2 linked regions of the Homo sapiens genome follow. The protein of the gene in region 1 interacts with the protein of each later gene in a biochemical or structural test. Each region holds a gene or a part of one and is shown on either strand. Other genes may lie near its edges. The genes, in order: CNOT11 and OBI1.

Region 1 (3,500 bases):
AAATACTGTCTGGTTGTAACAATGTCAAGTCCTTTGCAGGTTTTTTTTTTCTGTCATCTGTTGTAACTAAAAATAATCTTAATGACCAACTAGTTCTCCCAAGAAACAGTCCTGCCCCACCCCACCCAGGTGGAGACCAGAAATACCTGAGAAGGGGGCGGAGTGGGAAGCCGGAGCGGGAATCCGGACAGCTGACCTGCTGCGAGTCATCAGTCTGCAGAACTTTACAGTTCAAGTCACACCCACACTTTGTAATTCAAACAGGTATCCTCAAAGGACTTTTTCTATGAAGTAAGCACTTCCTCTTTAAATGTCCTATGCTTTTTTTCCCCCGTCTACTTAATATGTTCCACAGTGGACTGTGTTTTCAGGATGGTCTTGCGAGCAAAGCGAACTACAAACGTTGCTATTATTTCGTTTTGAAAATGATATTTTTGGTGGCAAACGTGATAGGAGAGGTCATCTCCTAAAAAGTTCTAACTCAAAAGTGTGCAAACTGGATAAAATTCACCAACCAATAGAAGAGTGGCCTTGCCTTTCCTGAGGAGAGTCATCCAGTCTCACACTCGGGCAGTGGGGGCTACTTTAATCTCAAATACACCACGATCCAGCTGTGTGATGGGGGCGGGTTCCCCTTCCCAGCCTTGTTTTCCTCCCTACAGCCTGTCAGTAACTCCACTTTCCATCAGAAGCGTTACCATCAGCTCAAACGTAACCATTGTGTAGTGTCCCACTGTACACAGCAGTGACACCCCCACTACCCCACCTCTCCCAGGGACAAACATCACAAAGAAAAGTTAGAACATTTTTGCCATCAGACTTCTTGCCCCACCACAGCAAAATTACCAAAGAGTAGAACAAAGCTTCAGAGACCCAAAAACCTTTGCAACTTCCTACTGCTCACTCACAGTGACAGGATTAGTTTATTGCTTACCACTTTCCAAAAAAAAAATAAACTCTTGTTGGATTAAAGATAAGAAAATGCTCACAATGGCTGGGTACAGTGGCTCACACCTGTAATCCCAGCACTTTGGAAGGCCAAGGTTGGCAGATCACTTGAAGCCACCAGACCAGCCTGGCCAACAATGGCAAAACCCCATCTCATAAAAATACAAAAATTAGCCGGGCATGGTGGTGCATGCCTGTAGTCTCAGCTGCTGGGGGCGCTGAGGCACGAGTATCACTTGAACCCGGGAGGCAGAGGCTGCAGTGAGCCGAGATCGTGCCACTGCACTCCACCCTGGGCAGCCGAGTGAGACTCTGTCTCAAAAACAAATTTTTTTAATTAAAAATAAATTTAAAAAAAAAGATAAGAAAATGCTTACAATCAATACACACCTGTGTTTGTTGGGGAGAGGATAAGGGGCTTTTGAAGGCTTTGGCCATTATTCGTTTGATCTCCACACCAGTGCTATTCTTAACACACATCGATTTATCCCACTGGATCGCGTGGTCAGGCTCCGTGGGGTTTAGCCAAGCAAGTTCATCCTCACAAATGTGGAGTGGAGGCGGTGGACGAATAAACTCTGGTCGAAAATGGCCTGTAATGAGAGCCGTGATAGTTGCTCCTATCAGGAAGCTAACATCTCTACACATCTCACACATTTCACTTAATAAAGTATGCAAAGAAATCTCTTAATAAGGATGATGTGACTAGAACTCTCATACTTCAAAATCAGAAGCAGGAATGACACAGGAAGTCAGGGTTTCAGTCAGAATGCAAACAAGACAATGAAAGAACACTATGCCAGCATGATGCCAGAGAACAATCTATTCGCTTTGCAGAAGTGAGGAAAGCCTGGCCGTGATCTGCCCATGCTGCACTTGAGCATGGCCACTCAACAGCAAAAGGGCACGACTCCTAAACGGGTGAAGTCTTTTGATGAAAAAATGAAATACTATGCCCTCACACATCCTATTCTTAGTTACCACTATTTGTTCAGCTGCCACTATGATTTGTACTAGTTTTATCTTTGCATCTTATAACTGAAGTAACAAATTACGTGGCGATGAAGCAGCAGGAGGAAAAGTATGGTTGCCTTTTGATATTTCGAAACGAATGTGGAAACCGTCACGAATCCCTAAATTCACAAATACTATATTCATTTTCAGAAAACAATAGAAGTACAAAAGGAAAATGAAGTGGTTCAACTCAACTATTTTATAAAACAAGATTCATCCCTGAGTTACAAACCCACTGAAATAAATGCTGGCTAGGACTTCTGCTGAACCAATTTCACATCTCACATAGTTTCCACATAGGGCAGGAGTGGCTTATTCCTGTCATGGATCCTAGCCCTGCCAAATTTGAGAGTCTACTGTTGAGTTTACAGAAAATATTTTTTAGTTAAAAATCATCACTTTATCTTAAACATCTCCACTGCCTCTTCACTTACCTCACCAGGACTAGCATCTGAATCTCCCTTCAACCACTTACAAAAATAAAGTTTTTAACAATTTATGAGAAATACTACTTATGTGATAGAGAGTTCTTGCGAGGTGGGGACACCTGGTGTTTGGCTAGACCCACTTATTATGAGTGATCTGCTTTTCATATATCTTCCTGGTGACCTATGCAATTTAGAGTTCTGCCCGAGCAAATATTTAAAAGAAGCCATTACATGCCATGGACATTTCAGTCACACTTGTGACCAGCAGAAACTTCAAATATTAAACCTATGTATGTCAAAGATCTACTGTAAACCAAATGGTACAAAAGTCACTGTGTGAACTTCAAACTCATGGTGATACTACACTATCATCTGGTAAACATGTTCTCATCCCAAAGCAGAAAGCTTGCCTTCATAATTCAAAGCACACAGAAGCCTATAAAACAGATGCCAGGTAGAGTGGTGCATGCCTGTAATTCCAACTATGTGGGAGTCTGAGGTAGGAGGATCCCCTGAGCCTCAAGGGATTGAGTCCAGCCTGGGCATCATAGCAAGATTCCATCTCTTAAAGAAATCCCCAAAAAATGCAGCTATATTATTTCAAATTCTACAAGTGTTTTCTTTGAATTAAAGTAAATTAGGAGTTTATAAGAAAAACTTTAAAATGGAAAAGGAAATGATAGCAATAAGAAGATTTAACAGGTATAAAACAAAAAGATAATGAGCTGCTACAAAAAGACTCATTTCAGTAAAATGAGAATCTGTATTTTTTTTTTTTCCTTTTTGAGACAGAATCTCACTCTGTCACCCAGGCTGGAGTGCAGTGGTTCGATCTCGGCTCCTGCAACTTCTGCCTCAGCAATTCTCCTGACTCAGCCTCCCAAGTAGCTGGGACTACAGATGCATGCCACTACACTCGGCTAATTTTTTATTTTTAGTAGAGATGGGGTTTCACCATGTTGGCCAGGCTGCTCTAGAACTCCTGACCTCAAGTTATCCACCTGCCTCGGCCTCCCAAAATGCTGGGATTGCAGGTGTGAGCCACTGCGCCCAGCCTGTATCTTTAGGTATGCATAGGATAGACATGCAACAAACAACTTGGCATGCATT
Region 2 (4,030 bases), on another chromosome or scaffold:
AACACACACATAATTTTCTTTAATAAGATCTTCCCAAGACAAAAAAAAAAAGGTCATCATTTGTCACATTATTAGACTTTCTATCCAATTTACTCTCAAATGAGACCCGTGGCAATAAAACAGTACTCATGAAATAAAAATGCAAGACAAAAAAATGGCAATGGTAAGTGACATACAATTCCAAACTCATCTGGAGTAAGCATAGTAAAGTGGTATCCTAGGGAGCGGTCCCCAACCTTTTTGGCACTAGGGACTGGTTTCGTGGAAGATAATTTTTCCACAGACTGGGGGGTTTCACCTCAGAACATCAGGCATTAGACTCTCCTAAGGAGCACACAATCTAGATCCCTTGCATGCACAGTTCACATTTGGGTTCATGCTCCTATGAAAATCTAATGCTGCCTCTGATCTGACAGGAGGCAGAGCTCAGGTGGTAATACTATCTCACTCCCTGCTCGCCTTCTGCTGTGCAGTCCTGGTTCCTGATAGGCCACTGACTGAACAGTACCTGACTGAGACTGGAGACTCCTGCCCTAGGGTATATCCCCCAGGTGTAAAGGATGGGCTCTTCTTACTGGAATGGGCCTGAGGGGGCAGTTCTTGGGGCAGATATATTAACCTTACAATCTGTTACTCTGATATTTCATTTCTTTTAAAGATGTTCCAGTCTTAAGAGAGTCCACTCTACCACCAAATCCCCTTTCTTAAAAAAGCAAGTATACTTGGGCAGAGACATGCCTAAGGCTGTTGTTCATTAATATCCATATCATCCTAGACTTACCCACTAGGAGTTACACATTGGCTTCAAACAGCGTTTCTCAACTTTGACATTACTAACATTTTGGACTGAAGAAAGTCTTGTTTTAGGCGGTTCCCTGCATATTACAGGATGTCTGGCTAGCAGCATCCCTGGGCTCTACCCACTAGATGCCAGTAGCAGCCCCTTGAAAACAATGAGAAATGTCTCCACACACTGCCCCATGTCCCTGGGGGACAAAATCTACCTCCACCTAGTTGAGAACCACTAGTATGGTATAGTCAAAGGAATCTTACTAATAAGCTAGTGGGGCTGTTGTATCAAATCCATTTTCAGTTGTGGAAACTGAGACTCTAAGAAATAATGATACAGGTTATAAATGGTAGAGCTAGCATTTGTACTCAATGTGATTCAACTGCAAAATCATGTGTTCTTTCAACTAAGAAACAGTTCTTTCTTCCTTGGAGCAGGGTTAGTGAACAATAATCTGGGAGAAATAAATACAGGACGATGTGCCTGAAGGAAGTGAGATCCTGGACACTGATGGAGGTGATGGGAGTGAAGACGGTATTGATGAACTTTACCAACTGGTCTTGCAATTATATCTATTATAAAACCAACTCCCCTGCTCTTCTGGCATCCTCCCCTCACTAGAGACAAGAGCCAACTGTGCTTCTAGAAAGAATATTATTCTTTCTTGCACCTTGTCAAAACTTTATCGGTTTCTCTAGTGAAGACCTGGAAAGACTATGTAAAGGATTAGTCTTCAGTGTAAAAATGACTATGGTAGGGGCACCACTACTTCAACATTAGGAATTTGGAAACTTTCCAAAATAAAATTCCTGGATAGCTCTTGGTTATGTTTTAAGAAATCCCTGGTTCTGGGCCAGAATTTAGGTCCTATAACTTAAGGAAAAAAAAAAAAAAAAAACCTGTGTGAAATAAGTCACTTAATGCCTATAGAACTGGTTCCCCATTCCTGTCTAGGTAAAAGGAGAGATGATACATCTCTTCTCTTCTACCTTCATCCCTACCAGAAATGCTTTGGGATAAACTGGAATTGTACTTGTCAAGTAAGTATGTCAGCTATTACATACCAACCCTGATAATTACTAGGATACATCTACGATTTTTGAATTAACTTATTATACACTATGTATAAAATGCAATATTGTTATACTTTTCTGAAAGTGAATCCTTCAAACTTATTTTCAACTGGAAAAAAGAGAAAAATGTAGAACTTGCAGTCCATATGGCTTTTTTTCAAAGCAAATTACTTATGACAATTATGTACAAGGCTGGTTCTTAAATCCACTCTTGGGAACTGAGAGGCAATCAGGACTCAAACATGGGCTCCATGTACTGACGTGGATGACTTGCTGATCAATCAACAGCTCCAAGTGAACAGTGATTAATGAATTTTGTCATCCTAGAGTGAGGACTCTAAGTTGCATAAGGCTTTGTCTCTAGCCCTATATTTTCAATATTTTAAATAAACAATATGGGTGAGAAGAAGAGAGGCATCCCTGAAAGAAGGGATCCTTTTGATAGCATTCCTTATGGGAAACAGTCAGTCTACTAGAGGATACTCCAAGACACAGGAACTCCTGCATTATAAGGAAGCTGATTTCATTTCTGGTTATTTCAGCCAGAACACTTGCCCTTAATATTAAGTAGAAATCATAATTTTATGGAGCCACACAAGGCTTGAGTCCCTTCCAAATGAAAAATATTTTAATTAAAGATTCCCTATCATATCCATTCATTCCAGCACTATTCCAGTCCACCTACATTCCAATCCCAATTTCATTCTCCCCCAAATGTTTTCAAAATACTCTGGTTTATTGTTTATCTTAAAGGGTAGGACCCAAAACTGGACTCATAGTCGAATGAGAAATAACTGAATATGATACATTAATGCTGAAAAGCATTAGTTGCTTTGCATTTCTCTTGAGAATCTCCTTCACCCTTTCATAAAACCAACTGCGGGCCACATTTGGCTTTCACTCATGGCAAAATGCATGCACGGCCAATAAAAAGTATTACATGCCATAATTTGGTTTCACAGCTTGAGTCCCAATTGAAAAGATAAACCCTGGAATTATCTAGAGGTAAACTGGTTTGTAACAGCCTGGTGGCACTATCAAAATGTCACTTAACAGATACTCTGGGATAGATCATTACTACATTTCTGCTTGCTGGCCCACTAGTTTAAGAAACAAACAAACAAAAAAAAAACAGGGAAGAATAGGTAAGAAAATATGTTATGCGTAAATCATCCCATGGGATGGTACCTAACTTCTTCAGGCCACATAGAGCTCTTACTTACAATATTGGCAAAGTAACTAAAAACATTATTGGGTAGAGAAAATTCACCTTTAAAACTGAAGTAGAGACAGAGGTGTAAATTTTCCAATTTTAAGTGCAAAGACAAAGCATTAACAGGTGAATACCTGGGCTCTCTCTCCTTCCTCTCCATCCCCACTGGCATCTATCTCTTCAGATTTAATGCCCTGCCCTCATCTCTCCCCCTTCATGGTATCCACCTTGTGACCCTCCAGGGATAATGGTCCTTAATTCTGTTGAATAATCAAAAGAGAAGATGCTGACTGTGAGATCTGGGGACATATGGTAACAGTAGCACAAGAACAATTATCTTTAAAAAAGAGCTAGGCACGAAGGACCTTAGGAACATTCTTAGAAGTGGCCAGAGATGCTCTATGTCAGGGAAGCAGAAGCGAACCTGAGGACACGCCAGTTTTAGTATCTCACAGTATAATACGTGTAGGAGGGTGAGCAGCACAATCATACTGAATTTGCTTTCACTATAAAAAAGAAAAGAGACATGGAACCAGCTGAAAATTCTGGATGTACTGTGGCAATTTCCAGAACAAACAGGTCTCATTTGGTTGGGAATGCAAATCTTCATTTTGAAGTGCTCCAGCCTCACAAAGCAACTGGGAAGAACAATTACTGGAAAAGGCTGGTTTCCTCAGTTTGAGGGCTGGCCTCAATGGCTATAGTAAAAGCTAACAGTTATTAAACATTATGTGCCAGACTTTATGCTAAACTTTGCACATGCTTTGTTTAATCTTCTGAAAACTGAAAGGATGGGGAGTTGATGTTATTACCATATTTTTACTGTTACAGATAAGGAAACAGGCTCAAAAGAGTTAAGTAACTTAAGCTGGGAGTGGTGGCTCACGCTTGTAATCCCAGCACTTTGGGAGGCCGAGGCGGGCAGATCACCTAGTTCGGGAGTTCAAGACCAGC

The links.
Region 2: the proteins of CNOT11 (region 1) and OBI1 form a complex in vitro, tested with the Homo sapiens proteins (one study listed by BioGRID).

The regions. Positions count from the first base shown.
Region 1 is NC_000002.12:101,262,886-101,266,385, reverse strand, and holds part of CNOT11 (CCR4-NOT transcription complex subunit 11), read right to left. Parts: intron 1,542-3,500; coding exon 1,339-1,541; intron 265-1,338; exon of another isoform or gene 1-264. UniProt on the Homo sapiens protein: Component of the CCR4-NOT complex which is one of the major cellular mRNA deadenylases and is linked to various cellular processes including bulk mRNA degradation, miRNA-mediated repression, translational repression during translational initiation and general transcription regulation.
Region 2 is NC_000013.11:78,652,360-78,656,389, forward strand, and holds part of OBI1 (ORC ubiquitin ligase 1), read right to left. Parts: intron 1-4,030. UniProt on the Homo sapiens protein: E3 ubiquitin ligase essential for DNA replication origin activation during S phase.